2 separate regions of the Homo sapiens genome follow, and region 2 is linked to region 1. Evidence: fine-mapped expression QTL. A gene starts in region 1. The other region holds a variant in brackets. All regions are shown on one strand. Distances are from middle to middle.

Evidence for each region. PIP is the estimated chance that this variant, and not a neighbour inherited with it, causes the effect.
Region 2: its variant is fine-mapped to the expression of MFN2 in whole blood (TOPMed, PIP above 0.99).

The regions. Positions count from the first base shown.
Region 1 is chr1:11,973,254-11,988,939 of GRCh38, forward strand. It overlaps MFN2 (mitofusin 2), which reads left to right and starts at 7,191. Exons shown (of 19, transcript NM_014874.4): 1 at 7,191-7,231; 2 at 8,717-8,861. PLOD1 (procollagen-lysine,2-oxoglutarate 5-dioxygenase 1) reads left to right here. Exons shown (of 19, transcript NM_000302.4): 19 at 1,400-2,284. The coding sequence ends at 1,555. RefSeq lists silencers at 6,807-7,066, 7,237-7,476 and an enhancer at 8,933-9,032.
Region 2 is chr1:12,006,076-12,021,761 of GRCh38, forward strand. MFN2 (mitofusin 2) reads left to right here. Exons shown (of 19, transcript NM_014874.4): 16 at 463-618; 17 at 978-1,174; 18 at 3,517-3,651; 19 at 5,421-7,433. The coding sequence ends at 5,490. MIIP (migration and invasion inhibitory protein) reads left to right here and starts at 13,423. Exons shown (of 10, transcript NM_021933.4): 1 at 13,423-13,477; 2 at 15,570-15,686. The coding sequence starts at 15,652. RefSeq lists enhancers at 1,832-2,497, 2,498-3,162, 13,083-13,132, 13,210-14,080, 13,253-13,332 and 1 more. The variant G/C (reference allele first, on the strand shown) is at 6,386.

The sequences.
Region 1 (15,686 bases):
GTTTGGGAGGCCAAGGCAGGCAGATCACTTGGGGCCAGGAGTTTGAGACCAGCCTGGCCAACATGGCGAAACCCCATTTCCACTAAAAATAGAAAAATTAGCTGGGCGTGGTAGCACACACCTGTAATCTTAGCTACCCAGAAGGCTGAGGCATGAGAATCTCTTGAACCCAAGAGGTGGAGGTTGCAGTGAGCTGAGATCATGCCACTGCACTCCAGCCTGGGCAACAGAGCGAGACTCTGTCTCCAAAAAAAACAAAAAGAGGTTTTTTGAACTTAGCCCTGGGCTGGGTGCTGTGGAGAACACTCATAAAAACAGCTATAATCCTTTTTTTTTTCTTTTTCGAGACAGGGTCTTGCTCTGTCACCCAGGCTGGAGTGTAGTGGCATGATCACAGTTCACTGCAGCCTCAACCTCCTGGGCCCAAGCAATCCTCCCACCTCAGCCCCCCCAAGTAGTTGGGACCACAGGCGTGTGCCACCATGGCCAGCTAATTTTTTTTCTTGCTTTTAGAGATGGGGTTTCACTATGTTGCCCAGGCTGGAGCTATAATTTTTTGAGAGCTTACAACAAACATATCAGGCATCCCTAATCCAAGGATTCTCAACCAGGAGCAACTGTGGCCTGCAAGGGACATTGGCAGTACCTGGAGACATAATTGGTTTTTACAACTATGAGGGGCTACTGGCATCTAGTGGGTAGAAGTCAGAGATGCCCGGGACAGCCTTCCACAGCAAAGTGTCTATAGTGGTGAGGTTGGGAAGCTTGATCCTCAGCTCTCAATTGTAACATCTCATTTAATTCTCACTATCCTGTTCTGTTTAACCCTCATTTTACAGAAGGGGAAACTGAAGCTCAGGTTGGTCACAGTTAGTAAAGAGTGGAGGTGATGTCTGCCCAGGGCTGCCTGACTCCAAGGACAGAGCTCTTGATCACTTACTCTTTGGGTTTTTTTTTTTTTGAGACAGTCTCATTCTGTTGCCCAGGCTGGAGTACAGTGGCGCGATCTCGGCTCACTGCCTCCTGGGTTCAAGTGATTCTGTCTCAGCTTCCCGAATAGCTGGGATTACAGGCGTGCGCTGCTACACCCAGCTGGTTTTTGTATTTTTAGTAGAGATGGGGTCTCACCATGTTGGCCATGCTGGTCTTGAACTCCTGACCTCAGGTGGTCCACCCGCCTTGGCCTGCCAAAGTGCTGGGATTACAGGCGTGAGCCACCACTCCTGGCCACTACTCTTCATTTAGTGTCTTCCTTAGCAGCGCTTGTGGCTGTCACTCCAGAAGGCATCCCCAGGCAGGCAGTGCTGAGGGCCACTTGGCCATGACAGGAGATCATGACGGGAGAACAGACGGGCAGGGGGGCGGTGGGGAAAGGCCACTGATGCTTTCTGTCTCCCAGGGCGGGGGCTGTCGGTTCCTGCGCTACAACTGTTCCATCCGAGCCCCAAGGAAGGGCTGGACCCTCATGCACCCTGGACGACTCACGCATTACCATGAGGGGCTCCCCACCACCAGGGGCACCCGCTACATCGCAGTCTCCTTCGTCGATCCCTAATTGGCCAGGCCTGACCCTCTTGGACCTTTCTTCTTTGCCGACAACCACTGCCCAGCAGCCTCTGGGACCTCGGGGTCCCAGGGAACCCAGTCCAGCCTCCTGGCTGTTGACTTCCCATTGCTCTTGGAGCCACCAATCAAAGAGATTCAAAGAGATTCCTGCAGGCCAGAGGCGGAACACACCTTTATGGCTGGGGCTCTCCGTGGTGTTCTGGACCCAGCCCCTGGAGACACCATTCACTTTTACTGCTTTGTAGTGACTCGTGCTCTCCAACCTGTCTTCCTGAAAAACCAAGGCCCCCTTCCCCCACCTCTTCCATGGGGTGAGACTTGAGCAGAACAGGGGCTTCCCCAAGTTGCCCAGAAAGACTGTCTGGGTGAGAAGCCATGGCCAGAGCTTCTCCCAGGCACAGGTGTTGCACCAGGGACTTCTGCTTCAAGTTTTGGGGTAAAGACACCTGGATCAGACTCCAAGGGCTGCCCTGAGTCTGGGACTTCTGCCTCCATGGCTGGTCATGAGAGCAAACCGTAGTCCCCTGGAGACAGCGACTCCAGAGAACCTCTTGGGAGACAGAAGAGGCATCTGTGCACAGCTCGATCTTCTACTTGCCTGTGGGGAGGGGAGTGACAGGTCCACACACCACACTGGGTCACCCTGTCCTGGATGCCTCTGAAGAGAGGGACAGACCGTCAGAAACTGGAGAGTTTCTATTAAAGGTCATTTAAACCACTGAAGGGAAGATGCTCAGGGCGAGTGGGTGTGTGTGTGTCTTGGTGTGAGTGTCTGCAGGGAGAGAGGTTTTAAGAGCCCTCTTTTTTTTTTTTTTTCTTTTTTTGAGACAGAGTCTCACTCTGTCTTCCAGGCTGGAGTGCAATGACGCTATCCCCGCTTTCTGCAACCCCCGCCTCCTGGGTTCAAGTAATTCTCCTGCCTCAGCCTTCCGAGCAGCTGGGGCTACAGGCACCCATCACCACGCCTGGCTAATTTTTGTTTTTTTATTAAAGAAAGGGTTTCACCAGGTTGGTCTGGCTGGTCTTGAACTCCTGACCTCAGATGATCCACCCACCTCGGCCTCCCAAAGTGCTGGGATTACAGGCATGAGCCACCGTGCCCGGCCAAGAGCCCTCTTTTTAGAGCCTTTAAGAAAGGTCATGCTAGCCTCTCGACCCCTGAGTAGCTGGGATTATAGGTATCCATGCCTGACACATTTTTGTATTTTTTGTAGAAACGGGGTTTCATTTCACCGTGTTGGCCAGGCTGGTCTCGAACTCCTGACCTCAGGTGATCCATCCGCCTCGGCCTCCCAAAGTACTGGATTACAGGCGTGAGCCACCATCCCAGGCCTGAAAGTCTTTTAAAAAAGATTTTTGAGGCCAGGCACAGTGGCTCACACCTGTAATCCCAGCACTTAGGCTGAGGCAGGCGGATTACCTGAGGTCAGGAGTTTGAGACCAGCCTGGGCAACGTGGCGAAACCCTGTCTCTACTAATAATATGAAAAAATCAGCCGGTTGTGTTGGCATGCGCCTGTAATCCCAGCTACTCGGGAGGCTGAGGCAGGAGAATCGCTTGAACCCAGGTGGTGGAGGTTGCAATGAGCCAAGATTGGGCCACTGCACTCCAGTCTGGGTGACAGAGCAAGACTCCATCTCAATTAAAAAAAAAAAAAGATTTTTTAGTCTTTTCATTTTCAAAATTGACTCATTGTAAATTCAAACAGCACAAATCTTAATCTTTCTGTCATCCTTTCCCCCCAGCTGCTCAGTTCCTCTCTCTGAAAGCCACCATGTCTAATCTGTTTTTTGAACGTTCTTGAGCTGGTTTGTGCCGACACAAGCCTGTGTGTGTGTTTGTGTATGTTAGGGTTATTTTTGTTTTTGTTTTTGAGATGGAGTCTCACTCTGTCGCCCAGGCTGGAGTGCAATGGCATGATCTCGGCTCACTGCAACCTCTGCCTCCCGGGTTCAAGCAATTCTCGTGCCTCAGCTTCCCGAGTAGCTGGGATTACAGGCACCCGCCACCACGCCCAGCTAGTTTTTGTATTTTTAGTAGATATGAGGTTTCACCATGTTGGCCACGGTGGTCTCCAACTCCTGACCTCAGATGATCCACCTGCCTCGGCCTCCCAAAGTGCTGGCATTACAGGTGTGAGCCACTGTGCCCGGCATAGGGTTGTTTTTAACTGTTAACTTTTTTCTGATTACAAACTCATCTTCACCATGAAAAAGTCAAACAAAATAGGTAACATGGGGGGCCGGATGCTGTGGCTCACATCTGTAATCCCAGTACTTTGGGAGGCTGAGGCGGGTGGATCACTTGTGGTCAAGAGTTTGAGACCAGCCTGGCCAACATGGCAAAACCCCCATCTCTACAAAAAAATACAAAAATTAGCCAGGTGTGGTGGCAGGTGCCTGTAATCCCAGCTACTTGGGAGGCTGAGCTGGGAGAATCACTTGAACCTGGGAGGTGGAGGTTGCAGTGAGCCAAGATTGCACCACTACACTCCAGCGTGGGTGACAGAGCAATAACCTGTCAACAACAACAACAACAAAAAGTAATATGGACCGGGTGCAGTGGCTCATGCCTGTAATCCCAGCGCTTTGGGAGGCTGAGGTGGTAGGATCACTTGAGGCCAGGAATTCTCAACCAGCATGGCCAACATGGCAAAACCCTGTCTCTATTAAAAATACAAAAATAAGGTGGGCTTTATGGCACATGCCTGTAAACCCAACTACTCAGGAGGCTGCAGCACGAGAATCGCTTGAACCCGGGAGGCAGAGGTTGTAGTGAGTTGAGATTGTGCCACTGCACTCCAGCCTGGGTGAGAGAGCAAGACTCTTGTCTTAAAAAAAAAAACAAAAACGTAAGAAAGAAAGGTCTCCTGGAGTTGTACATCAGTGTGCTCTGCACCCATTCCCAATAACACTCAGCACTGCTAGGAGAGTTTTGTCATCCCGAGGGTTGAAACGAGGATTCAGCCATCTCAATGAGAAACACATGTTAATGGGTTGAAACATATCTCCAAACTGAGATTTCCTCTACTTGCTGGGCAAGTATGCAGATGTGTTTCAGAGATAAAGCCCAGCTGCTGGGCAGAGTACAAGACTAAATGCCTGGGAATGGATTCAGAGGTTCCTACAGCAGTCCAGGCAAGTGACCAGGACCTAGACCAATGCTTGCAGGGAAATTTAGGGAAGAGGAGGGAGTGGGCAGGGGAGATGTTTAGGAGAGAGAACATCCAGGCTTTCACCTGACGGGCAAGATTCTGCTAAAAAGGAAAAGGAAGGCTGGGCGTGGTGGCTCACACCTGTAATCCCAGCACTTTGGGAGGCTGAGGCGGGTGGATCACCTGAGGTCAGGAGTTTGAGACCAGCCTGGCCAACATGGTGAAACCCCATCTCTACTAAAAATACAAAAATTAGCCAGGCATGGTGGTGCACGCCTGTAATCCCAGCTAGTGGGGAGACTGAGGCGGGAGAATTGCCTGAGGCGGAGGTTGCGGTGAGCCAAGATGGTGCCACTGAGCTCCAGTCTGGGCAACAGAGTGAGAGCGAGACTCTTTCTCAAAAAAAAAGAAAAAAAAAAAAAAAGAGGAAATGGAATTTATAGTTCCTGCCCTCAGAGAATGGAAGTGGAATTTAGAGTTCCTCTCCTTAGGGAGTCCAGAGATTGTGGAGGAGGAAACAATCCGACCCAGTACCAGGCAGCTAGCAGCTGAGGCCCCAAGGCACGCTACATCCCAGACAGGGCCCTGTCTACACCCTGAGGCTGAGTCTGCGTGTGGCCCCACAGTCCACAGTCAGACCCGCGGGGCACTAGGCTACTCAGAGGGCAGTGTGGGCAGGACAGCTCCCTTTGGCCATCGTCATGAGACTGATAAACCAGTCACTTCTATATCAGAGTACTGATTTGCCTCTTGAGGTTGTTTGTGGCAATAAATTGAGGTTGTTCTACCATGGTTATAGAGCAGCACCATCCCACAGAATTACAGTTTGACCCACAAATGCAAGCTACTTATGTAATTTTAAATTTTCTAGTAGCGACATTTTTAAAAAGAAACAGGTGCAATTAATCTTAGTAATGTATTTAACCCAAATGACCCAAAATATTATCACTTCAACATGTAGTCAGCATATAAATAGTAATGGGCTAATAGCCCTGCACTGTGGCAGGTACCTGTAACCCGGCATTTTGGGAAGCCGAGGCAGGAGAAGATTGCTTGACTCCAGGAGTCCAGGAGTTCAGGACACCAGCCTGGGTAACAAAGTGAAATGCTTCCCCATGTCTACAAAAGATAAATACTAGGCATGGCTGCAGCATCTGTGGTCAGCTACTTGGGAGGCTGAGTGAGGTGGGAGGATTACTTGAGCCCAGGAGTTCGAGGCTGCAGTGAGCCGTGATTGCACCACTGCACTCCAGCTTGAGTGAGAGTGAGACTCTGGCTCAAAGATAGATTTTTTTTTTCTTTTTTGAGACGGAGTCTCTGTTGCCCAGGCTGGAGTGCAGTGGCATGATCTCGGCTCACTGCAACCTCCACCGCCCGTGTTCAAGCGATTCTCCTGCCTCTTCCTCCCGAGTGCACTATCATGCCTGGCTAATTTTTGTATTTTTAGTACAGACGGGGTTTCACCATGTTGGCCAGGCTGGTCTTGAACTCCCGATGCACCCGCCTCGCCCTCCTAAAATGCTGGAATTACAGGCTTGAGCCACCGCGCCCGGTCGATATTTTTTTTTCCTAAAAATTGAGATAGTTTAACAGCCTTTTTTGTCCTAAGTCTTATAGCGCATCTCCGTTTGCACTGGCTCAGGACTCGAGAGCCACACGTGGCTAGTGCCTACTGTTCTGGCGCGCTCAGGCTTGGAGCCTTCTCTGCGGAGGCCAAGTCCTGCAAGGGATCTGTTTGCTGCGGTTTCCTAGTAGTGTCTGCCGCATCACTGGGGCCCGGTGATCTGGGTAACCATGTGAGCTTGGGTAACCTCTCCTCTCCCTCTCCTGGGACTGCTGTGGACGTTAAATACAGCGGTGGATGTTAGAGACGCAGTTCAGTCACTGGCATTGATTCGCCGTTGTTGCTGCTCTTCTTTCCTCAAAGGCGACTGAAGGGCAGCAGGCCCATGCTCGCTTCTGTCTGCCCGATGAGTCACTTCACCCTAGGCCTGGCCCTCTAGAGAACACTCCTCTAAGATTACAGAATGCAAATCTGGATTCCAGAGCTGGCAGAGGCCCCAGGGTCAGGCTCTAGGACAACCGGCGAAAAAGCGGGAACCTCTACTCCACGCCCTTGGTTTTTCGCCCCTTGACAGCTTGAGGCTCCGCCCCGCTTTGCCCCGCCCCCCCAGCTCCGGCCGACGCCCACCGGAACTACAGCCCCCATGATGCAGTGGGAGTCCGAGCCTCTGCGTCGTCCGCTTGGGACGCGCCGGCGGAGGAGTGGCGCGCGGAGGAGTGGCGCGCTGAGACGCCGCTCGAAGCGCCGAGTCGCGGGGCAGCAGAGGCGTAAGGAGTAGGCGGGGCGAGCCGGCTGGGCTCAGGGTCCACCAGCTCACCCGGGTCGAGGGGCAATCTGAGGCGACTGGTGACGCGCTTATCCACTTCCCTCCTCCCGCCTCCCCCTGGGGTGGCGCTCGCTGGTGACGTAGTGAGTGTGATGGCCGCCGCGAGGCCGGGAAGGTGAAGGTGAGAGGGCGAGCAAGCCGGGGTGGCGGGGACTGGCCCGGCCCGGCCCGGCGAGTCCTGAGCAGCTCGGCGTGGGCCGACGGGATTCTGGGGCCACGGGGGTCTGGGATGCAGTCAAGCGGGGTCCCCACTCTCCGGCCTCGCCGCCGGGCCCTCCCCGGCCCTGAGAGGAGGGGGCGGGCCACGGGACCTGGGACTGGTCGGTGGGGTCCCCTGTAGCTTCTCATCGCCCCCGCCTTTCCACCCTTCACGGCCATGTTCTACCCCTGCCCCTTCTCTATTTTTCATCCTGTCTTCATTTTGCCAGCATTTACTCAGCACCTGATAGGTGTCCACGTTCACCGCGGGAGCGCCCTGCCATCCCCACTTTGGGCAGTTACTGCCTTCTCGTTCAGCCCTGTTTACTTATATGACTTCTCACCGGACTGTAAGGCCCTGGAGGGCAGGACTGTTTCTTATCCATTTCTAACGTGGCGCCTGACACACACAGAGAAGGCACACAGAAAATGTTGAATAAATAGCTGTTAAGACGCACGAAGGCAGAACTGCCCGTTACCCCCTCTCGTAATCCTTCATTGCCCTCTTTAAATTCTCAATCATCTCTCTCTCTTCTACCCAGAAAAGGGCTCTGGTTATCTCTTTTCTACCCAGAAAAGGGCTCTGGTTATCCGCCTCTGGTGTCCCAAGGTTTGGGGCTTGGGGGAGGAAGGCAGCTCAATGTAGTTAAAAAAGGAAGGAGGCCGGTCGCAGTGGATCACACCTGTAATCCCAGCACTTTGGGAGGCTGAGGCGGGCGGATCACCTGAGGTCAGGAGTTGGAGACCAGCCTGGCCAACATGGTGAAACCCCGTCTGTGCTAAAACCAAAAACTAGCCGGGCTTGCTGGCACACGCCTGTAATCCCATCTACTCAGGAGGCTGAGGCAGGAGAATCGCTTGAACCCGGGAGGCGGAGGTTGAGCCGAGATCGCGCTGCTGCACTCCAGGAGCTTTGGAGTCAAAGGGAGCTAATATTTCAGATCCCAGCTTAGACAAATCTTCAAGTATTCCAGCCCTCTGTCCCACAGAATAGAGAATTAAGTGAGATACTTTACAGTAGCTGAACACATTGGCTTTCAGTCAGTTCTTCTGTTCCTCAATAGTCAGCTGTTCCACAGTCCTCAAGCCCAGTTTTGTTCCTAGTTTTGCTCTGTCCTCTTCTCCCCTCTCTGGATGTACCTTTCCCAGGGCTCCTGCAGGGACCTCCGTGGTGCCTCAAACCCGCACATGGCGGAATACGTGTGCACAGTCAGGATTGGTCCCACACCTCTGCGTTTTTTTCCCCAGGGCACTTCCTCACATGCCAGCGCAACTCCCCAATACCTCAATGAGTAAGCTTCCCTCAGGGATGAGTTTGTTTGGCTTGAAACCTGATTAGACATGTTTTGTACACCAGTGTTTTTTTTTTTTGGACACCGGATCCATCTCCCTTTTCTTTTCTAATAAGTCAGGACTGGTGGAGTCAACACAGTCAATCAATAGCCAACCTCAACCTGAGACAGGACAGAAGAGAACTCAGAATCTTTTTGTCTTTTGGACTTCAGCCATGTCCATGATGCCTACCCTGTGAAGATCTCTCACCATCCAAAAAAGTAAGTAGTAGCTGTGACTTCTGGCACCCTGGATTTGAGCTGAGTGGACAGGGGTGTGCTCTCCTGGACCTCTGGTGGCAAGTCTCTTGAATGGCATCCTCTTTGTATAGAGCCACAGCTTTCTAACTTGTGTTGAAAAACTACCGTATCTTTTACTTCCGTGAAGGATTTCGCTGGTTGCTTAGAGAGCCTGTTTAAAAGTTGACAGTTCAGAAGTGGCTGGGATCTCTTGGGCTCCCTGAAGAGTTAGTCTCTGTCTCCCTCATTTGGTCTCTGCTGTGCTGGCTCTTCCCCATCTCGGCCCAGCACAGGTTGGCTCCTTGTCACTGCTCTTTTAAGACTCTGCTCTGTCCCCTTTACCCTGTATACTCTTTTTGTTTCGATTTCTCAGCTTCTCCTCTTTTCCAGTTGTGCCAGCAGACGATCCGTGGATCCATTTTATTTTCCCTGCTAGGAGTTGCTGTACATAACACTGGGTAAGGAGGTGGTGTGGATTCAGGGACTGTGCTTGGGATCCAAACACACCTTGCAGTGAATTTTGCTACTGCTGTCTCTACACCCAAGATACCTAATACTCCTCAACGAATAGCCTAGGTTGAGGCAAAGCTGTTGACCACCTTGGAGGGCTAATAGCAGTTTCCATTTAGAACTGGGTTCATTTCTGGTCTTAGGTTAATATTTATTAATACTGTGCCCTGGCACTTTTTAGGGGTAGGGGCAGGAGAGTACCAGAAAGAGTGGGCTTTTCCCTAAAGTGTGATCCTCGGGATTTTAAAAGCTATTACACAGAAGGGTTTTTTCATTGATTATATTTGTGAAATGCTGAATTCAACACAGTTAAACTAGTGTCTTTACAACAAGGCTTCCTTCCCAAACTCTTTTGCTGTGCTCACGTGCTCCACTGAGGAAAATGGTAGCATATGGTGTTTTTTGTTTGTTTGTTTGTTTTTTGTTTTTTTTGAGACAGAGTCTTGCTCTGTCACCCAGGCTGGAGTGCAGTGGCGCGATCTTGCAGTGGCGTGATCTTGGCTCACTGCAAGCTCTGCCTCCCAGGTTCACACTATCCTCCTGCCTCAGCCTCCCGAGTAGCTGTACTACAGGTGCATGCTGCCATGCCTGGCTAATTTTTTGTAGTTTTAGTAGAGATGGGGTTTCACCGTGTTAGCCAGGATGGTCTCGAACTCCTGACCTTGTGATCTACCCACCTCGGCCTCCCAGAGTGCTGGGATTACAGGCGTGAGCCACCGCGCCTGGCCTAGCATATGGTGTTTTACAAACTGATTCTACTATTGAACCTTCTTTACATGGGATATTGGGTGCAAGTCGAGTTCTGTGGACCACGCTTTGGGAAGTGCTGCCAGAAACTATCCAAAACAGTAATCTCCAGAGCACTTATGAGGCAGTCACAGCTTGAAGTGTGACGCTTAGTGTGTCACTGATGTTGGAGCTGGGCTCTCAGGCTATGCTTGCAGGATGGTCCCCACGTGCCTGTGGCAAGGTCTGTGGTGAAGCAGAGATTATCAAGGCTTTCCAGAGGCAGAGGAGGAACCCAGCTGCCCTGCATCACCCTGGAGGAGTAGGGAGTCAGCAGTCAAAGCCTTGAGATAATTGGGGAACACAGGATGTGATAAAAACCAGAAGTCTGTGATGTTGTTTGTTCTCTATGAGGCATCAGAGGAGGCTTCATGGAGCGGGTGACACTTGAGTTGGGTCTAGAAGGACAGTAGGAGTATGCCAAATGGGTGGAAAAGGAAGGAGGATTCCAGGCAGAAAGCAGCTCATGCAACACAGATGTGGAATCTCAGCTTGCAAGTTAGCAGAGCCAGATAAATCAGGCAGAGTTTGGAGGGGTTGACAGTAGGTTTTACGCCAGGGGTTTGGATGCAGCTGCAGGCTGGGTATTAGTGAGAGCAGGGAGGCTCCTGGACCGGCTGAACTCCCAGCAGACCTTGTAACCTGGAGCTCCCAAGCTTCTACTGGTGTACACGCTGTCGAGTCTTGCAGTTAGTGAGCACTAATGCTTTTGGTTTTATATCTCCTGGGCTTGCAAACATTGACCAGAACTTAAAAGCACCTGCTTCTGATGGCAGGGAACTTGCTTCCTGCAGCAAGTCACTTCTGGAGTGGGGTATCGCTGATCCTTCCCCAGCTGACCTGTTTATTTGATCTCCGTGATAGCGGGTAAGGGAGTGGTGTGTGTGGTGTGAGTTGGCGGAGTTGCCTCTGCCCTCCCTGAAGGCTGGGTGTTCATGGAGAGAGTCTTGTGATCTTGCTGGTAGAGTTTGTTGTTATTGTTTTATAACATGTAAAGCTGCCTTTAGCTCTTACTGTAGTGAAGCATGTTGCTTGCGTCATCAACTTTAGTCTTCTCACAGTTTAGATGGTATTGTGGTATTAGGATATTGGTTTTCATCCACGGATCCAGGCTCATAACTCCTATCCACAGCCCTTGTTATGGTTTTTTGATATAATGTTAGATGTGTTAGGCCTCAGGGGCAGGCCTCTGACCTTCTGCTCTCCTTCCACCCTAATCTTTCCCCACCTGATTGTGGGCCTTAAAACCCTCCCCTGAGAGGGGTGGACCCTGTATCCTGGGGGAAGGAATGCTGATGTCATGAAGCTTCCATAAAAATCCAAGAGGACAGAGTTCAGGGAGCTTGTGGATAGCTGAACACACGGAGGTTCCTAGAGAGAGGCCTGCTCAGGGAGGGCACAGAAACTACACGCCTCTTCCCCCATACCTCGCCCTAAGCGTCTCCTTATCTGTATCCTTTGCGATATCCCTCATAATAACCTGGTAAACGTAAGTAAGTGTTTCCCTGGGCTAGGTAGGCTGCTCCATCAAATTAATTGAACTCAAAGAGGGGGTCATGGGAACCCCAGCCTGAAGCCAGTCGGTGAGAAATTCTGGAGGCCCAGACTTGCAACTGGTATGTTTGAGGGGTGGTGGTGGAGAGGCGGGGCAGTCCTGGGGACTGAGCCCTCAACCTGTGGGATCTGACACTCTCTCCAGGTAGACAGCATGGGAACTGAATGAGAGGATACCCAGCTGCTGTCCGCTGGTTGGTGTGTGGGGAAGAAACCCCCTCACATTTGGTCACAGAAGTCTCTTGTGTTGATGATTATGGTGTGAGAGTAGAGAAAAAAGATAATTTGAGACAGTTTCTCTCTCCAGTAGGTGTCTTGTTTGTTGTACACATGAAGAAACCAAGGTTCTGTGATGAAATAACTTGCTTAAGTTTAAGCAGCCCAGAAATAATGTAGTCACAATTTGAACCCAGCTCTGCCTGATTACAAAACCTGTCATAGGTAGTGCTATATCATGCCCCATCCTTGATCCCTTTTTTTTTTTTTTTTTTTTTTTTTTTAAAGAGAGAGACTTCGCTCTGTCACCCAGGCTGGAGTACAGTGGCGAGATCTTGGCTCACTGCAAATTCTACCTCCCAGGTTCAAGTGATTCTCCTGCCTTGGCCTCTGGAGTAGCTGGGACTACAGGCATGCGCCACCACACCCAGCTAATTTTTTGTATTTTTCATAGAGACGGGGTTTCACCATGTTGGCTAGACTGGTCTTGAACTCCTGACCTCAGGTGAGCTGCCTGCCTCGGCCTCCCAAAGTGCTGGGATTACAGGCATGAGCCACCGTGCCTGACCCCTGATCCCTTTTCTATTCCTTTTGGATGGCTTTCCTCTTGTGCCTGCCACATCCCCTCTTTCTCGAACAGTCTGATCTGCCAGGCCATGGCAAGCCTCATTTCAGCGCACTCTCCTTTGCTGCTTTGGAAGAGTGAGAGTAGCATTTTCTTTGCAGTTTCCTTTCTCAGAGCTGTACTGTCTTTAAGCCCTGGACATATGGCTTCCATGCTGAGAAAACATCTCTCATAGCTGTGGCGTCATGCTGAGGAGGAATGTAGAAACGGAAGTGGGGTCACTTCCTTCCCTTGTCTCCAGAGGAATCATTAACATTGCACAAGAACTTGTTGGTTTGGGCACACATGTGGGTCCCTATCCCGCTTTGGGTCGGTCTGTCTTCTGCCCACTCTTTGGGATGGTTAGTTACTAAAAGTCCGTTTTGGCATTTGGTCTTCATGTACCTCTTCCGGGTGTTCTTTCTGCTTTTCAGGACCTTGTGCAACATACTTTGGCCCCATTTGGAAGTTTTTCACGTGTGCTTGCTGGGGAGCAACACCTCATTTCCAATCTAGAGAGAGTGAGCTTACTGCTGGGTGGAGAACTGAGCAGTAAGATTAGGGTGGCTGGGGAGGCAGTGACAGACCCAGGCACAGTCAGCTGTGCACACACCCCCTCATCCAGGAGGGCCTTTGCCCTTTGACTTCCTGGGATTGGTGGGCTCTGCTCAAGAAGTAGCTTTCGCCGTGGTGGGAACTCTGAGGGACCTGGCAGGGGTCCACTTTTGGGGTCGGAATTCCCAGTCTTACCCTGGGCACTCCTTCTGGTGTGTACGCCTCTTTTTGATCTTTTTTTTTTTTTTTTTGAGATGGAGTCTTGCTCTATTGCTCAGGCTGGAGTGCAATGGCGCGATCTTAGCTCACTGCAACTTCCAGCTCCCAGGTTCAAGCAATTCTCGTGCCTCAGCCTCCCGAGTAGCTGGGATTACAGGTGCCTGCCACCATGCCTGGCTAATTTTTGTATTTTTAGCAGAGAAGGGGTTTCACCATGTTGGCCAGGCTGGTCTCAAGTGATCCACCCGCCTGGGCCTCCCAAAGTGCAGGGATTATAGGTGTGAGCCACCATGCCCAGCCTCTTTTGACCTTTGACCAAAGACCTCTAGGACTTTGGAGTCAAGTCTCATGACCTCTAAAATGTTGTTATATGAAAAGATAAGCTACAAAGATATGTAGGATTGAGTGAGAGCAAGAGAGACAGTCACACAAAAATAGACTGTGATAATATGGCTGGGTACGGTGGCTCACGCCTGTATTCCCAGCACTTCGGGAGGCCGAAGCAGATGGATCACTTGAGGTCAGGAGTTTGAGACCAGCCTGGCCAACATGGTGAAGCCCTGTCTACGAAAAATAAAAAAATTAGCTGGGTGTGGTGGTACATGCCCGTACTCCAAGCTACTCAGGAGGCTGAGTGAGGCAGGAGGATCGCTTGAACCTGGGAGGTGGAGGTTGTAGTGAGCTGAGATTGCACCACTGCACCCAGCCTGGGTGACAAAAGTGAGACTCTGTCTCAAAAAAAAAAAAAAAATTATAATAAACAAAATGTTGGGCCGGGCGTGGTGGCTCATGCCTGTAATCCCAGCACTTTCGGAGGACAAGGTGGGTGGATCATTTGAGGTCAGGAGTTCAAGACCTACCTGGCCAACATGGTGAAACCCCACCTCTACTGAAAATACAAAAATTAGCCGGGCATGGTGGCGAGTGCCTGTAGTCCCAGTTGCTTGGGAGGCTGAGGCAGGAGAATAGCTTGAACTCGGGAGGTGGTGGTTGCAGTGAGCCGAGATCATGCCACAGCACTCCAGCCTGAGCGATAGAGCAAGACTCTGTCTCAGAAAAAAAAAAAAAAAATGTTGGCTGGGCATGGTGGCTCACGCCTTTAATCCCAGCACTTTAATCCCAACACTTTGGGAATCCAAAGTGAGAGGATCATTGGAGCCCAAGAGTTTGGGAGCAGCCTGGGCAACATAAGAAGACCCTGTCTCTACAAAAAATTTTAAAAAAATTAGTGGGGCGTGGTGGTGCATGCCTGTGGTCTCATGTACTCAGGAGGCTGAGGTGGGAGGATTGCTTGGACCCAAGAGGTTGAGGCTGCAGTGAGCTGTGATTGCGCCACTGCACTCCAGCCCAGGTAACAGCGAGATCTTGTCTCAAAATAAAAAATAAATAAGTAAATAAAATGTTAACATTGCTTATCACAAAATGATGGGGTTATGGGTTTTTTTCCCCTTCAGTTTCCAAATTTTCTGTAGCACACCTGTGCTATACTAAAATAGACCAATAGTTTTTGTGTGTGTGTGTGTGTGTGTGTGTTTTTCTTTGTTGAGACTTGGTCTGGCTCTGTCACCCAGGCTGGAGTACAGTGGTGCGATCTCGGCTCACTGCAACCTCCGCCTCCCAGGTTCAAGCAATTCTCTGCCTCAGCCTCCCAAGTAGCTGGGATTATAGGCGGCCACCACCACACCCGGCTATATTTTTTTGTATTTTTAGTAGAGACGGGGTTTCATCATGTTGGCCAGGCTGGTCTTGAACTCCTGACCTTGTGATCCACTTGCCTCAGCCTCCCAGAGTGCTGGGATTACAGGCATAACCCACCATGCCTGGCTGTTTTTTTTTTTTTTTTTAAATAGAGACGGGGTCCTACATTGCCTAGGCTTGTCTCGAACTCCAAAGTTCAAGTGATCTGCCTGCCTTGGCCTCTCAAAGTGCTGGGATTATAGGTATGAGCCACTGAACCTGGCCCCTAACCAATAGTGTTTTTATGTGGTCTTGCTCTGTCTCCCAGGCTAGAGTGCAGTGGACTGATCATAGGTCACTGCAGCCGAAACTCCTGGGCTCAAGTGACCCTCCCACCTCAGACTCCCAAGTAGCTAGGACTGCAGATGCATGCCACTGTGTCATGCTAATTTTGTTTTATTTTTTGAGACAAAATCTCGCCCTGTCACCCAGGCTGGAGTACAATGGCATGATCTTGGTTCATTGCAGCCTCCATCTCCCAGGTTCAAGTGATTCTCCTGTCTCAGCCTCCCAAGTAGCTGGGATTACAGGTGTGTGCCATTGGGTCTGGCTAATTACTGTATTTTTAGTAGAGACGGGGGTTTCACCATGTTGGCCAGGCTGGTCTTGAACTCCTGACCTCAGGT
Region 2 (15,686 bases), 33 kb after region 1:
ATTTTTGCTACTGATTGACCTGGATTTGTTCTAAGCAGTGATATTTGTGAAATGACAGATGCTAGTATTTTTCTCTAATACACATTAAAGTAAGTATGTAACTATTAAAAATAGACGACTTTAAAAATAACCACCTACATACGACTATTTTAAAGTTCAGATTTTAAAAACATTCATCTCTAAACCACTTGAGTTGTCACATGTACTGCCCTCTGTACACATCCCACACTCGGGGAAGCTGCCAGGCGGGTCAGGATGGCTCCTGCTCACATTTTGCACGTCCCGTGGTGCTCACCTGAGGGTCTCCTCTGCTACATCTGAAGCTAGTTGTCCCCTTTTTGCCTTTTGGAAATTGAAGAGCCACTCTGTGTCCCTGTTCCCCAGACTAGGGCAACACTGAGGGTTCACGTGAATGAGAGACTCAATACGTCCCCCTCACCCCTCTCATGTTTCTCTCCTCAGGTCCAGCGTCCCATCCCTCTGACGCCAGCCAACCCCAGCATGCCCCCACTGCCACAGGGCTCGCTCACCCAGGAGGAGTTCATGGTTTCCATGGTTACCGGCCTGGCCTCCTTGACATCCAGGACCTCCATGGGCATTCTTGTTGTTGGAGGAGTGGTCAGTGACCAGTTCTGCTCGGGAAGGTGGGGGCGGAGGGCAGGTGGGCGGGGCCTGAGGGCTAGGTTCCTGCTGTGGCCCCTGCATTGGGCCACACTCCACAGTCCACTGCATACTTTCTCCTCTGTGATTGCATGGGGAGCGCTTACTCCCTCACCAAGTTTCCCTCACTTCCTGCTGGACATGGTCCCAGACCTTCTGGCCTCGGTGGGATCAAAGGAGACATTGAAAGAGGAACTCAGAGTAGAAACATGAAGGCTCCTTGGCTGGGGCCCTTCAGATGGCCCTGGTAGTGATGGGCCCCAGAGGAGGGTGGGCCACAGAGAGGCTGCACTCCAGGCTGACCATGTGCTCTGCAGGTGTGGAAGGCAGTGGGCTGGCGGCTCATTGCCCTCTCCTTTGGGCTCTATGGCCTCCTCTACGTCTATGAGCGTCTGACCTGGACCACCAAGGCCAAGGAGAGGGCCTTCAAGCGCCAGTTTGTGGAGCATGCCAGCGAGAAGCTGCAGCTTGTCATCAGCTACACTGGCTCCAACTGCAGCCACCAAGTCCAGCAGTGAGTGGCCCTGTCGGACCCCAGCAGGGGACTTCCTTTAGGCAGGGTCAGCCCCATCTCCCTTCCCCATCTCTCTTCCCACGTGGCCTGGAAGCCACTGGGTCCTAAGCATCGTAGACCCTGGGCCTTCAGGTGTGCAGGGCCAGCTTTGAGGCCAGTCATGGGGAGAGGGGTCTCCCAGGGACACTTTGCGTCTTGGGCTGGGACGGGGTAGGCCTCTGGGCCCCTTGGTGAGGAAGAAATGGGAAGGCAAGAGATATTCCTAGTAGGAGTTTTAGAGGTTGCCTTGAAGAGCTTGGGCTGTGGATGTAGTTTTGAAGTTTTTGAACCCAGCCTGATCTTCGTGCACATCTTAGGTCAGGTGGGAATCTATTGCCTAATCTGGGGTGGTGGGGATGAATATCCTCGCTTCCTTTTTTTTATTGTGTGTGGCAGACCCTTTGCTCTAGACATTTTGCACCTAATTATTTCTCTGACTCTTGGAGGTAGATGTTGTCTTATAGCCATCTCCTTTTTCTTTCTTTCTTTTTTTTTTAATTGATCATTCTTGGGTGTTTTGGCAGGGTCATAGGACAATAGTGGAGGGAAGGTCAGCAGATAAACAAGTGAACAAAGGTCTCTGGTTTTCCTAGGCAGAGGACCCTGGGGCCTTCCGCAGTGTTTGTGTCCCTGGGTACTTGAGATTAGGGAGTGGTGATGACTCTTGACAAGCATGCTGCCTTCAAGCATCTGTTTAACAAAGCACACCTTGCACCGCCCTTAATCCATTTAACCCTGAGTGGACACAGCACATGTTTCAGAGAGCACCAGGTTGGGGGTAAGGTCATAGATCAACAGCATCCCAAGGCAGAAGAATTTTTCTTAGTACAGAACAAAATGGAGTCTCCTATGTCTACTTCTTTCTACACAGACACAGCAACAATCTGATTTCTCTATCTTTTCCCCACATTTCCCCCTTTTCTATTCGACAAAACCGCCATCGTCACCATGGCCCGTTCTCAATGAGCTGTTGGGTACACCTCCCAGACGGGGTGGTGGCCGGGCAGAGGGGCTCCTCACTTCCCAGAAGGGGTGGTTGGGCAGAGGCGCCCCCCACCTCCCGGATGGGGCGGCGGCCGGGCGGAGGCGCCCCCACCTCCCTCCCGGACGGGGTGGCTGGCCGGGCGGGGGCTGACCCCCCCCACCTCCCTCCCGGACGGGGCGGCTGGCCGGGCGGGGACTGACCCCCCACCTCCCGGACGGGGCGGCTGCTAGGCGGAGACGCTTACTTCCCAGACGGGGGCGGCTGCCTGGCGGAGGGGCTCCTCACTTCTCAGACGGGGCGGCTGCCGGGCAGAGACGCTCCTCACCTCCTAGACGGGGTTGTGGCTGGGCAGAGGCGCTCCTCACATCCCAGACGGGGTGGTGGGGCAGAGGCGCTCCCCACTTCCTAGATGGGATGGCGGCCGGGAAGAGGTGCTCCTCACTTCCCAGAGTGGGCAGCCGGGCAGAGGGGCTCCTCACATCCCAGACGATGGGCGGCCAGGCAGAGACGCTCCTCACTTCTCAGACGGGGTGGCGGCCGGGCAGAGGCTGCAATCTCGGCACTTTGGGAGGCCAAGGCAGGCGGCTGGGAGGTGGAGGTTGTAGCGAGCTGAGATCATGCCACTGCCTGGGCAACATTGAGCACTGAGTGAACGAGACTCCATCTGCAATCCCGGCACCTCGGGAGGCCGAGGCTGGCAGATCACTGCCGGTTAGGAGCTGGAGACCAGCGCGGCCAACACAGCGAAACCCCATCTCCACCAAAAAAATACGAAAACCAGTCAGGCGTGGCGGCGCGCGCCTGCAGTCGCAGGCACTGGGCAGGTTGAGGCAGGAGAATCAGGCAGGGAGGTTGCAGTGAGCAGAGATGGCGGCAGTACAGTCCAGCTTCGGCTCGGCATCAGAGGGAGACCGTGGAAAGAGAGGGAGAGGGAGACCGTGGGGAGAGGGAGAGGGAGCGGGAGAGGGAGAGGGCCATCTCCTTTTTCAAAATCAAGAAACTGAGATTTGAAAAATAGTGACGTGTCCTCTGCTACTCGGCTGATGAGCAGCAGAGTCAGGATCTCTTGTGCCCAAACCAGGGTGCACAGCTCTGTGCTGTTGCTTCTCAGGCCGTGGTGATGCTGAGTGTGTTTGGTTGTTATGATTATTCAGTCTCAGCAGGGTGTAGGAGATTCTGCCAAACCAGGCCTGGCTCAGGGCAGAGCTGCTGGCAGGGATATAGACAGGCCCAGCTGCTCCCTACTGTGGGTGGGCTAAGCCACCAGTGGCATCTTGCTCCACACACCCCAACTGGGTCCCTTCTCTCTCCTCCCCAGGGAACTGTCTGGGACCTTTGCTCATCTGTGTCAGCAAGTTGACGTCACCCGGGAGAACCTGGAGCAGGAAATTGCCGCCATGAACAAGAAAATTGAGGTTCTTGACTCACTTCAGAGCAAAGCAAAGCTGCTCAGGTGAGGCTGGCCCGTGTGGCCAAAGGTTAGGGCTCCAGGGTGCAGCCCAGGCACACTGGGGCTCAGCTGCTGGGCTTGCGTCTTGGGTGTGGACACAAATTTTTCTGGTGGGGATTTAGCTCATTCGTGTTAGATGTGTACCATGGGCTGGGCACGGTGGCTGACGCCTATAATCCCAGCACTTTGGGAGGCTGAGGCAGGTAGATCACCTGAGGTCAGGAGTTTGAGACTAGCCTGACCAACATGGTGAAACCCCGTCTCTACTAAAAATACAAAGATTAGCTGGTCGTGGTGGTGTGTGCTTGTAATCCCAGCCACTCGACAGGCTGAGGCAGGAGAATGGCTTGAACCCAGAAGGCGGAGGTTGCAGTGAGCCGAGATTATGCCATTGCACTCCAGCCTGGGCGACAAGAGCAAAACTCTGTCTCAAAAAGAAAAAAAAAATGGATGTGTACCACGTACCTCATGGATGCCAGATGGTGCTGGAGGCTCAACAAGACACAGCGTCGCTGCCTTCAAGGCACTTGCAGTTGAAGGCATGATGGCATCACAGTACTGCGAGACTGCAGTTCACAGCGCCCTGTGCTGAACCGCAGGGCCTACAGCGCTTAACATGTGCTATTTCACTCAGTCTTCCCTATTTCTCCATTTTCTACATAGAAATGTTGGGGAACTTGTCTGGCATCTCAAAAAATGGCCAGGCTAGGAGGGGAGCCCAGGTGTACTTGGCTCCAGCAGCCCCCGCACTCTGATTCTCCTTACCTGCCACTCTTTGGACCCATGAAGAGGGCATAGCCCCCCATTTACCCACAGAGAAGCTGGTTACTTGGCTGGGGACTGGCAGAGCTGGGATTGGAACTCAGATCTCCATGGGGTCTCTGTGGAGCTTTCATTAATAATTTGCTGGAAAGAACATCAGTCTGAGGAGTCTGGAGTCCTGGGTTCTCTCCAGCCACTCATGTTTGGCCCAAGCTCTTAACTCTCCTGTGTCTCATTATTTTCATCTGTAAAATGGGAGTAAGATTTCATGACACAGCTGCATGACTGAATGTAAAAGTGCCCTGCAAAAGTCCTCGGCCTGCCCAGCTCATGATAACATCAGCACACGGGGACCCTGCAGAAGTCCTCGGCCTGCCTAGCCCATGATAGCATCAGCACACGGGGACCCTGCACTTCCTGCCCTCGCCCCTGACGTCAGAGTCTGCAGGGTGGCAGAGCCAGAGGGGAGATGGATCAGAGGGTGTCAGCTCCAACCCTCACCGGATCACTGGGCTTTCCCTGCCCTCGACTGCGGATGTGCCCCCCCCGCACCCCCACCTGGGGACAGCTGCTTCCTAGGGACACACTGCTTGCCCTCTGGGGACTCTCAGAAAGGGGGAATGGGGGGAACTGCTGCTTGTCAGCCACAGTGACACAGCTGAACCTGGAAAGGGTCTCCTGTCAGCACCTCAACCCCTTGCTTGGCAAGCAGGGAAACTGAGTTCCCGACAGCTCAGGGACTTGCACATGGTCCTGGGTGAAGGAAACACAGGGCTTGAGAATCAGAAAAGCCTAACTTGTAGCTCCCTGGCTTATTAGCCGTGTGGCCTTGGGAAGTTATTTAACCCCTCTGGGCCTCCTTTTCCCCATCTGTGAGACAGGGATAAACACGATTGTTGGAGGATGATGTAAGGGTGTGTGTCAAGCGTCCTTAGGATGGTGCCTGGCGGGTAGTCCTAATACTGCCTATCATCAGCTATCATGGTTACAAAAGAACCATTTCTTTGCAGGAATAAAGCCGGTTGGTTGGACAGTGAGCTCAACATGTTCACACACCAGTACCTGCAGCCCAGCAGATAGTGGGCACCTGAGGCGGAGTCTGCGTGGAGAGGGGCGGTGCTGCCAGCCCTAAGTGCCATGTGGGCTCCCCCAGGGGCACGTGTGGCTCCTGCCCCCTGGCCACTGCCAAGAGAATGAAGCACCCAGTCTCGTACCATTTTGAGCCCTCCAGCACTACTTATTTTCCCCCACCTTTGCCTGCTGTTGCTGGAAGAGCTGGCTCATACCCCCAAAGGACACTTTCAGCGACAGCTATGGACAGCATGGTACCAAGGAGTTAAGTTGAGGCTTTTTCCAGCTTTCTCTGGTTCATTTGATTGCTTGATAAGGCCTCAGGATCTCAGCATTGCACAATGCCTCATGGAAGCCTTTGAGGGTATCACACAGACACCCCCACCTTCCTCCAGCCTGTGCGCACCTGCCCTCCTTGCAGCCCAGCACACCTGCAGGTGTAAGGGACGATTGGAGTTTCTTCCCAGAGAGTCTGTCCCAGAAGGACTGTGGCTTGTGTGTGTCCATCTCGCCTGTTGGCTCAGTGCTTCATCCCATTTGCAGAGCCTCAGACACGTCTTGGTGGTGAGGCTCAGTTACCCCTGGGCTTAGGCTGAGGCGGGCCCTGTGCTGGGGGTGGTAGAAAGGATGCTGCTGAGGCAGCTGGAGGAGTGGGAGTAGCTCAGAGGGGAGGGCTGTTGGATGTATGGGGAGCTGGCAGAGCAGGTGGCAGTCACTGGGACAAGGAGGGACTTGCCTCTCTTCTCATTATTGTGTCCTTTGCTTTAGTGTCAGTCCTGGACTTGTGCAGGCCTGTTTTGTGTAGATCTGTTTTGGAAGATGGCATGGTCTAGGTGGTTGAAGGATGTAGTAGAAGGATGGATGGTGGAAGGTGGGGACGTTGGTGGCTGGCTGAGGTGCATGG[G/C]CCCCACACAGGACAGCTGGAGAATGGGCCGTCCACTTGGCCTCGTTCTGCGAGGGGCTCATGGGTCTGAGAGCCCCCACCCACTAGGCTTGATTGCATCCCTGTTGTGCCCTTTAAGAGACATGTTTCCACCCCACCCCCAACCTTGTCCCAAGTGCCCTGGACTAAATTTCCTGTGCCAGTGACTGCAGTTGGCCAAGGGACAATGTGGAAAACCCAGTGTCCATCTTTCCACCCTCCCTGATCTCCAGAACCTTCGACTGACCCCCTTGTCTTTATGCTGATGTTGAGTTTTGGGATTGTTACTGGTTGAAGTGGGGGCAGATGCCTGTCACCAAGGTGTTGACTGTGTGAGAAAAGCAGTTTGGGTGACAAATCCTGTGTGGCACAAGTTGGATCGCTTCCTAGAAATAAGCAACACCTCTCCCAAAAAGCAGCCCACAAGGCAGGGGCCCAGCAGCCCAGCCATCACTCATCTTTGAGGAAATGAGTTGGTAGCCTCTGTGCACTGTTTGGTGGCCACATCACAGGTGATGTCCTGTTCACATACCTGCTTGTATTTAAAGCCCTCAGTCTGTCCTGTTGTGTGGGGCGAAGTGATGGACTCTGCCAGGTGGACATGCTGTGGGTGGATGTTCCCGGCGTGTGCCGGGCCTGAATGGACAGGGGCCACTTCACAGCATGTCAGGGAAAATCACTGTCACACAATTCCAATGGATTTTGTGCTCTTTTTGAAAAAAAAAAATTCTTTAGCGTAAACATGAATTTTTTTTCAATGTAGCCCCTGGGGAATGAATGAAATTTTGAGCTTCTTCAATACGTAAAATTAAATTTATACCACTGAGGGAGAGACCCTTTCTGAAAGAAGTATGGCCAAAAGCACTTTAATGCTGCTGACATTGTTGTTTTTATGTTCATTTGCTGGAGCGCAAGACGTGCTGACACAGTGAGTTTTCTCTGATGTATTTAAGGTGATGTATTTGCTTGAGTTACTCCTGTATCATTGCTCATAATATTGGAAACTAAAATAAAACCTAGTTGGAAATCCTTTGTGAGATCTGTCTTTTTGGGTTCTTGTACAAACTCCTCTTTGACATGGCCAGCTGTATTCTGAAGTGACCATAACTTTGGGGAAGTTCCCACTATAATCTGGCTCCTTATTCTTGGAAGGAATTTGATACTCTCAAAAGAACAGATGGTTTAACTGATCTTTAAGGATCAGGAAATCGAGACTGATTTCTTTACAGATTTCTCTGTAACTCCAGACCATTTTTCACTTAAAAAGTAAATGACTCACTGTTCCATCCTGCTTTGCCTTCTGAGAATTTGGTTGCCACTATTCTTTTTTTTTTTTTTCTTTTTTGAGATGGAGTCACGCTCTGTCGCCCAGGCTGGAGTGCAGTGGCACGATCTCGGCTCGCTGCAAGCTCCGCCTCCCGGGTTCAAGCAGTTCTCTGCCTCAGCCTCCCAAGCAGCTGGGATTACAGGCGCCGACCACCAGGCCTGGCTAATTTTGGTATTTTAGTAGAGACAGGGTTTCATCATCTTGGCCATACTGGTCTCAAACTCCTGACCTTGTGACCCACCTGCCTCGGTCTCCCAAAGTGCTGGCATTACAGGTGTGAGCCACCGCTTTTTTTTCTTTTTTTTTTTAAGGGTCCTCAGGAGTAGATACAGGGGTAGTCAGTCAGTTTCCCCGCCCCTACAGCTGTCCTCTTGGCTCTGGTGCTGCCCAGTGTCCGCCCTGCTCGCCCACAGAGGCCACAGCTCAGCTGATAGCAACCTCATCCTTCCAGATTCCCAGGCTACACACTTGGGGCATCACCCTCGAGTCCACGGTCACACGTGCTGCACCAAATCTGTCACCTGCTGTCTTCCAAGTCTGTTGACCCTGCCCAGTTTCCTCACCTCCATCATAACCATCAGCCCGGATCTAGGTTCCTGTTCCTGCCTTGTCCCCGCCTATCCTCGCCATCTTGTGGCTGTTTCAAGGCAGCAGCCAAAGACTTTCTCAGGTAACAAAAAAAAAATGAATCATTACCTTTTTTTTTTTTGCAATCCACAAAACAAGTAGTTTCTGTCATTAACAAGATGTTATGTACAACCCACTAAATTGTTCACGACAGCATCATCCCGGGTGATGAGCCATAGTTTGAAAAAGGGCCTTCTTGCCTTATGCAAATGCTGCTTAGTTATTCCCAGTCAAGGCCAGCCTCATTCCTGTGCTTTCTCTGACTACCTCATCTGTCCACTGGCGAATCTGAGAGGCTGGAAGTTTTAGCCCTCTGGTAACAATGTCCCTATTTAATCACAAAAAGTAGGTAGTCAGGAATGTTCCACTGTGTCCCAAGCACTGGGGTGACAGCCCAGGCAGCTCTCTCGGAGAGCATCTGGCTTCATAATGTGGCCTCAGAAGCAGGGCCCTCCTCGCAGATGTCAGCTAAGTTGTTCACCGTGTCCTCAAGTGGATGGTTTCCTGTGTCTAAGTGGGACTCTTAGGCTTGAGATAAGAACAGCGAACTTTGAGAGTTTAGTATGTCAGACATTTCATACGCATGAGCCCTAATCTCAAAATCCAATGGTCTATTTTCCCTAATTTCCTCAAATGAGGAAGTTCATTAATTCAGCAAAATATTTGTGCACTTACTATGTGCTAAGCATGGTTCTAAGCACTGGAGATATAGCAGTGACTAAGGTGGATAAAAATCTGCCCCTGGGGCCAGACGCGATGGCTCACGCCTGTAATCCCAACACTTTTGGGAGGTGGGCGGATCACGAGGTCAGGAGTTCAAGACCAGCCTGGCCAACATGGTGAAACCCCATCTCTACTAGAAATACAAAAATTAGCCAGGCTTGGTGGCGTGCACCTGTAATCCCAGATACTAGGGTGGCTGAGGCAGGAGAATTGCTTAAACCTGGGAGGTGGGGGTTGCAATGAGCCGAGATCACGCCATTGCGCTCCAGCCTGGCAACAGAGGGAGGCTCCCTCTCAAAACAACAACAACAACAACAAAAATCTCACTCACTGATTAGTAACCTTTTTCAGTTACAAAGAAAAACAACATACTCGCTAAACTCCCTAACATCAGGAGCCATCAGGCAAATTATCTCAAGTCTTGATTTACAAACCAAACCCTTATGCCTCTGATTACACAGGGGACCGGTCTGACAAACTTTTTTTTTTTTTTTGAGGTAGGTTTTTGTTGGCTGGAGTGCAGTGGCGCAATCACGGCTCACTGCAGACTTGACCTCCCAGACTCAAGTGATCCTCTCACCTTAGCCTCCCGAATAGCTGGGATTAAAAGTGTGCGCCACCATGCCCGGATAATTTTTTGTTTTTTTGTAGAGACGAGGGATCTCACTATGTTACTCAGGCTGGTTTCGAACTCCTGATCTCAAATGATCCTCACACCTTGGCCTCCCAAAGTGCTGGGATTATAGGTGTGAGCCACCATGTCTGGACACAAATATTCTTTTTCTTTTTTTAATTTAATTTTTCAAATAGAGAATGTATGTTGGCTGGGCACAGTGCCTCATGCCTGTAATCCCAGCACTTTGGGAGGCTGAGGTGAGAGGATCGCTTGAATTCATGAGTTTGAGACCAGCCTGGGCAATCTGGCAAAACCCTGTCTCTACAAAAAATACAAAAATTAGCCCAGCATGGTGGTGTGCACTGGTAGTCCCAGCTATTCCGGGGGCTGAGGTAGGAGAATCACTTGAACCCAGGAGGTGGAGGCTGCAGTGAGCCGAGATTGCATCACTGCACTCCAACCTAGGCAACAGAATGAGACCCCGTCTCAAAAAAAAAAAAAAAAAATAGATGGGATCTTACTGTGTTGCCCAGGCTGGCCTCTAATTCCCAAGCTCAAGTGATCCTCCTGCCCCAGCCTCCCAGAGTGCCGGAACTACAGGCATGAGCCATCACACCCAGCCAATAAACATTCTTTTCTGATAAGCAACTGCAGAACTTAAGCCAGTTTCAGCCAGCTTACAGAAGCTGTGAACAACCTGTTTAGCCAATGCACATGAGCTCACCTCCTCTCATAAATATGTATACAGCTTTTCCCTCAAACCTGCTAAATATGTATGAATATGGGCCCTGTGAGGCATAAAACCCAACCTGTCCTTTCTCTCTTGGAAGAGAGCACCTTCAGTGCATGCTGCAAACCATCTCTTCCTGGTTTGCAAACAAGTATCAACAATAAAGTGCTCCTTTCTACTATTTAGCCACCCTGGTGATCTTCTAGACAACATTATGCGTATTTCTGCTAGGAACATTAGTGTTCAAATCTCTGTGTAGGCAGATGTTTTCATTTTTTGTAGGTAGATATCTCAGGCTGGACTTGCTGGGCCATATGGTAAATTTATGTTTAACTTCTACAGATTTTGTGAAGTGGTTATACTGTCTTATATCCCCACCAGTAGTGAATGTGGGTTCATATATATATATAGTTTTTTTTTTTTTTTTTTTTGAGACAGTCTTACTCTGTCACCCAGGCTGGAGTGCCGTGGCACAATCGCGGCTCACTGCAACCTCCGCCTCCCAGGTTCAAGCCATTCTCCTGCCTCAGCCTCTCGAGTAGCTGGGATTACAGGTGCCCACCACCACACCCGGCTAATTTTTTTCTATTTTTAATAGAGACGGGGTTTCACCATGTTAGCCAGGCTGGTTTCAAATTCCTGACCTCAACTGATCCGCCCGCCTTGGCCTCCCAAAGTGCTGGGATTACAGGCCTGAGACGTCGTGCCCGGCCTCATTTCATTTTTTAGAGCATCACAAACTACCTCTCCAGCTCATCTTGCTAGAGTTACTGCATAATCCATGCATTCCTGCCAAGGATCAGCCATCTTCTTGAGTCGGAGGGCTTCCTGCTAGCTCGGTGCCTGGTGTTATCACCCTCGGCTCTTCTGGAGGTAGAGGGGCTACCTATCTTCTTTTCATTCTTTTTTTTTTTTTTTTTTAATTTGAGACAGAGTTTCACTCTTGTTGCCCAGGCTGGAGTGCAATGGTGCGATTTTGGCTCACCACGACCTCCGCCTCCCGGGTTCAAGCGATTCTCCTGCCTCAGCCTCCCGAGCAGCTGGGATTACAGGTATGCGCCACCATGCCCGGCTAATTTTGTATTTTTAGTAGAGACGGGGTTTCTCCATGTTGGTCAGGCTGGTCTGGAACTCCCGACCTCAGGTGATCCGCCTGCCTGGACCTCCCAAAGTGCTGGGATTACAGACGTAAGCCACCGCGCCCAGCCAATTTTTGTATTTTTAGTAGAGACGGGGTTTCGCCATGTTGCCCAAGCTGATCTTGAACTCCTGACCTCAGGTGATCCACCCGCCTCGGCCTCCCAAAGTGCTGGGATTACAGGCGTGGGCCACTGCGCCCGGCCCCAGTTTTTCTAAGTTATATAGTTTAGGTTTCACAACTAGATCTATGATCCATTCTAGGTTAATTTTTGCATATGGGTTTCTTTTTTTTTTTTTTAGGATGAGTGTGTGGATATCCAATTATACCTACAACATTTGTTGAAGACACCATCTCTTCTTGTTTTCCCAAGTTTCCACACACATTATTGATAAAATAAATTTTTTTGGGGGGGGTGCTGGGTGTCGCTGGGCTGTAACTCCTTACCTCAAGCCATCTGCCCACCTCGGCATCCCAAAGCGCTGGGATTACAGGCGTGAGCCACCGCCCCGGGCCGAAGGCATTATCCTTTCTCCACTGAATTGCACTTTCATTTTTGTCAAAAATTAATTGCTCACATATCGGAACTCTATTCTGTTGCATTGATCCATTTGTCTACCTGGACGCCAATACCACACTTTCTTTCTTTTTTAAATTAATTTATTTATTGAGACAGGGTCTCTCAGTCAGGGTGGAGTGCAGTGGTGCAATCAAAGCTCACCACAGCCTCAGCCTCTTGGACTCAGGTGATCCTCCCATCTCAGCCTCCCGAGTAGCTGGACTACAGGTACGTGCCTGGCTCATTTTTTGTAGAGACGGGGTTTTGCCATGTTGCCCAGGCTGGGTATCTTTTTTTTTTTTTTCTTTTTTGAGATGGAGTCTTGCGTCTTGCTCTGTCATCCAGGCTGGAGTGCAGTGGCGCGATCTCGGTTCACTGCAATCTCTGCCTCCCTAGTAGCTGGGTTCAAGCGATTCTCCTGCCTCAGCCTCCCTAGTAGCTGGGATTACAGGCGCCGGCCACCTCGCCCGGCTAATTTTTGTATTTTTAGGTTTACTGGCGTGAGCAACCGCGGCCGGCCCCAATACTACACTTTCTTGTTTACTGTGTAGTCCTTATCTTCTGGCGCAAAGCGGGCACTCGCTAAAAACCTGAATGAAAGTATAAAGCAGGCCGGGCGCAGTGGCTCATGCCTGTAATCCCAGCATTTTGGGAGGCCGGGGCGGGCGGATCACGAGGTCAGGAGTTCGAGACCAGCCTGGCCAACATAGTGAAACCCTGTCTCTACTAAAAATACAAAAAAAAAAAAAAAAAAAAAAAAAAAAAAAAAAAAAGCCGGGCATGGTGGCGCTCGCCTGTAGTCCCAGCTACTCGGGAGGCTGAGGCAGGAGAATCAATCGCTTGAACTCGGGAGGCAGAGATTGTGGTGAGCCGAGATCGCGCCACTGCACTCCAGCCTGGGCAACAGAGTGAGACTCCGTCTCCAAAAAAAAAAAAAAAAAGAAAAGTATGAAACGATGAGTACAATGAGTAGCCAGCCGCCTGCCCCACCTACCCCGCCGCTCCGGACTGCCGCCTGCGCCGAGCCTAGGCCGCCCAGCCTGACTGAAACTGCCGCTGCTGAACTCAGCGTATCCAGTCCCGCAGCTGACCAATCGGAGCTCGCCCTTCCGGGGCCCGCCCCATTCCAGGAATCGACCTCCGCACCGGCCTCGAAAATTGACCAATCGGTTGTGTAGCTCCGCTCTTAGTCCCGCCCCCACGCTGAAACTGACACTTCGGATCGCCGAGTAACGCTCACCAGACGTCCCGGCCCTGCCCCTCACCTGACCAATCAAGACGGCCGGCCGAGGCCCCTGGAACGGCTCAGGCGGCTGCGGCTGCTACGGCGGCGCATGCTAGGGGATTCTGCCGGGTGAGTGCTGGGCGGCAGGACTGGGGTGGGGCGGAAGGGCTCGGCAGGAGGCCCCACGTGCATTCCCGCGAGGGGCTCGGGGGCCGCAGTGGAAAAGAAGGGTAGGCTGCATCTGCCTCTGCGGGGGTCCCGCCTCGGCGTCCGCCCGCTCGCCCTCTGTTACTTCTGCGGCCCCGGTGTTTCTGGAGCGTCGCTTTCCCGGTGTCTCCGCTCAGCTTTTCCCTTTCCAAAGCGCGGCCGGGGCCAGGGGAGGGCAAGGCCTGCTGTGCCCTTTGACCCCGTGCGAAAACGGCGACCCTCTGACTATAGGGGTGTGGCCCAGAGCCACTTGGCCAGTTAGGGGTGGGGGCCGGGATCTTTGTCCTGCGGATCAAACAGTTGGCCCCTCTGGACTGCATCTCCGTGCCCCCCGGCCCTGCGGGGTAATATACGTGTGTGGGGGAGGTTCCGGGGTAGTCGGCTACTCTGTGCTCCAGACCTTGCACCCGATCCTGAGGATCCTTGGAGGTGGGGGGCAAGGGCTGGGAGGAGGAGGCGGAGTTTTCCCAGGCTCCCCCACACTTCCAGGGAAAGGCTTTCCAAGAACCCTGAACTCATGGACCCTGGAGTCAAATTTTGGTTCAGATCTAGCCTCTTGCTAGCTGTGTGACTTGGGGCAAGTTGCTTAACTTCCCTGAGCTTTGGTTTCTTCATATGTAAAAAGAAAGTGAAGGAGGAAGGGAGGGCAGGAAAGGAGGAAGAATCCCTTTTGAAGCCTGATTTGTGTTGGACTCACCAGTTATAAAGCAAGCTTGTCCAAACCACTGCCCAGGAGGCGGAGGTTGCAGTGAGCCAAGAAAAAAAGGAAGCATGCCCTTGCCCCAGCCATTTTGGTAATAATAGACGTTTATTGAATGCTTACTGTATACCACTGTAAGCACTGTATTAAGTAAGCACTGTACTGAGTGCTTTGTTTTTTGTATTTTGTGTGTGTGTGTGACAGTCTTGCTCTGTCACCCAGGCTGGAGTGCAGTAGTGTGATCTCCACTCACTACAACCTCCGCCTCCCAGGTTCAAGCGATTCTCCTGCCTCAGCAGCCTCCTGAGTAGCTGGGATTACTGGCGCCCACCACCACACCCGGCTAATTGTTTGTTGTTGTTGCTGTTTTTGAGACGGAGTCTCACCCTGTCGCCCAGGCTGGAGCGCAATGGTGCGATCTCGGCTCACCGCAACCTCTGCCTCCCGGGTTCAGGTGATTCTCCTGCCTCAGCCTCCCGAGTAGCTGGGATTACAGGCGCGTGCCACCACGCCCGGCTAATTTTTGCATTTTTAGTAGCGACGAGGTCTCTCGCCACGTTGGCTAGGCTCATCTCAAACTCCTGACCTCAGGTGATCCTCCTGCCTCAGCCTCCCAAAGTGCTGGGATTACAGACGTGAGCCACTTGGCCTGTTTTTTGTTTTTTTTACAGTGATGCAACCATGGCTCACTGCAGCCTGGGTCTCCTGGGCTAAAGCTATCCTCCTGAGTAGCTGGGGCCACAGACAAGTGCCACCATGGCCAGCTAATTAAATTTTTTTTTGGCCAGGCACTGTAGCTCATGCCTGTAATCCCAGCACTTTGGGAGACCGAGGCAGGCGGATCACAAGGTCATGAGATCGAGACCATCCTGGCTAACACGGTGAAACCCCGTCTCTACTAAAAATACAAAAAATTAGCTGGGCGTGGTGGCAGGCGCCTGTAGTCCCAGCTACTCAGGAGGCTGAGGCAGGAGAATGGCGTGAACCCGGGAGGCGGAGCTTGCAGTGAGCCGAGATTGCGCCACTGCACTCCAGCCTGGGCGACAGAGCAAGACTCCATCTCAAAAAAAAAAAACAAAAAAACAAAACAAAAAAAAATGTTTCTACAAATGTTGTCCAGGCTTAACATGCTTTCTTTAATTCTAACAACAATCGTATGAGGTAGATACTGTTGTCGTCCAGCAGATGAGGAAACTGAGGCACAGAGAAGTTAAATAACTTGCCTGAGGCAGTACAGTTAAAGAGTGTCGAATGGGGGTCTCTGGCACCACAGGGCACCCTACTGAGCCCCGTGTCCTGCTGTCTTGACTTCAGGTAGAAGAGCTGGGCCTGGAACCCAGCCCTGAGGACATCCTGCGGCCCAGGGGCAAGTGACACCTGCTGAGAGAGGCCCAGGATGGTGGAGGCTGAGGAACTGGCACAGCTGCGGCT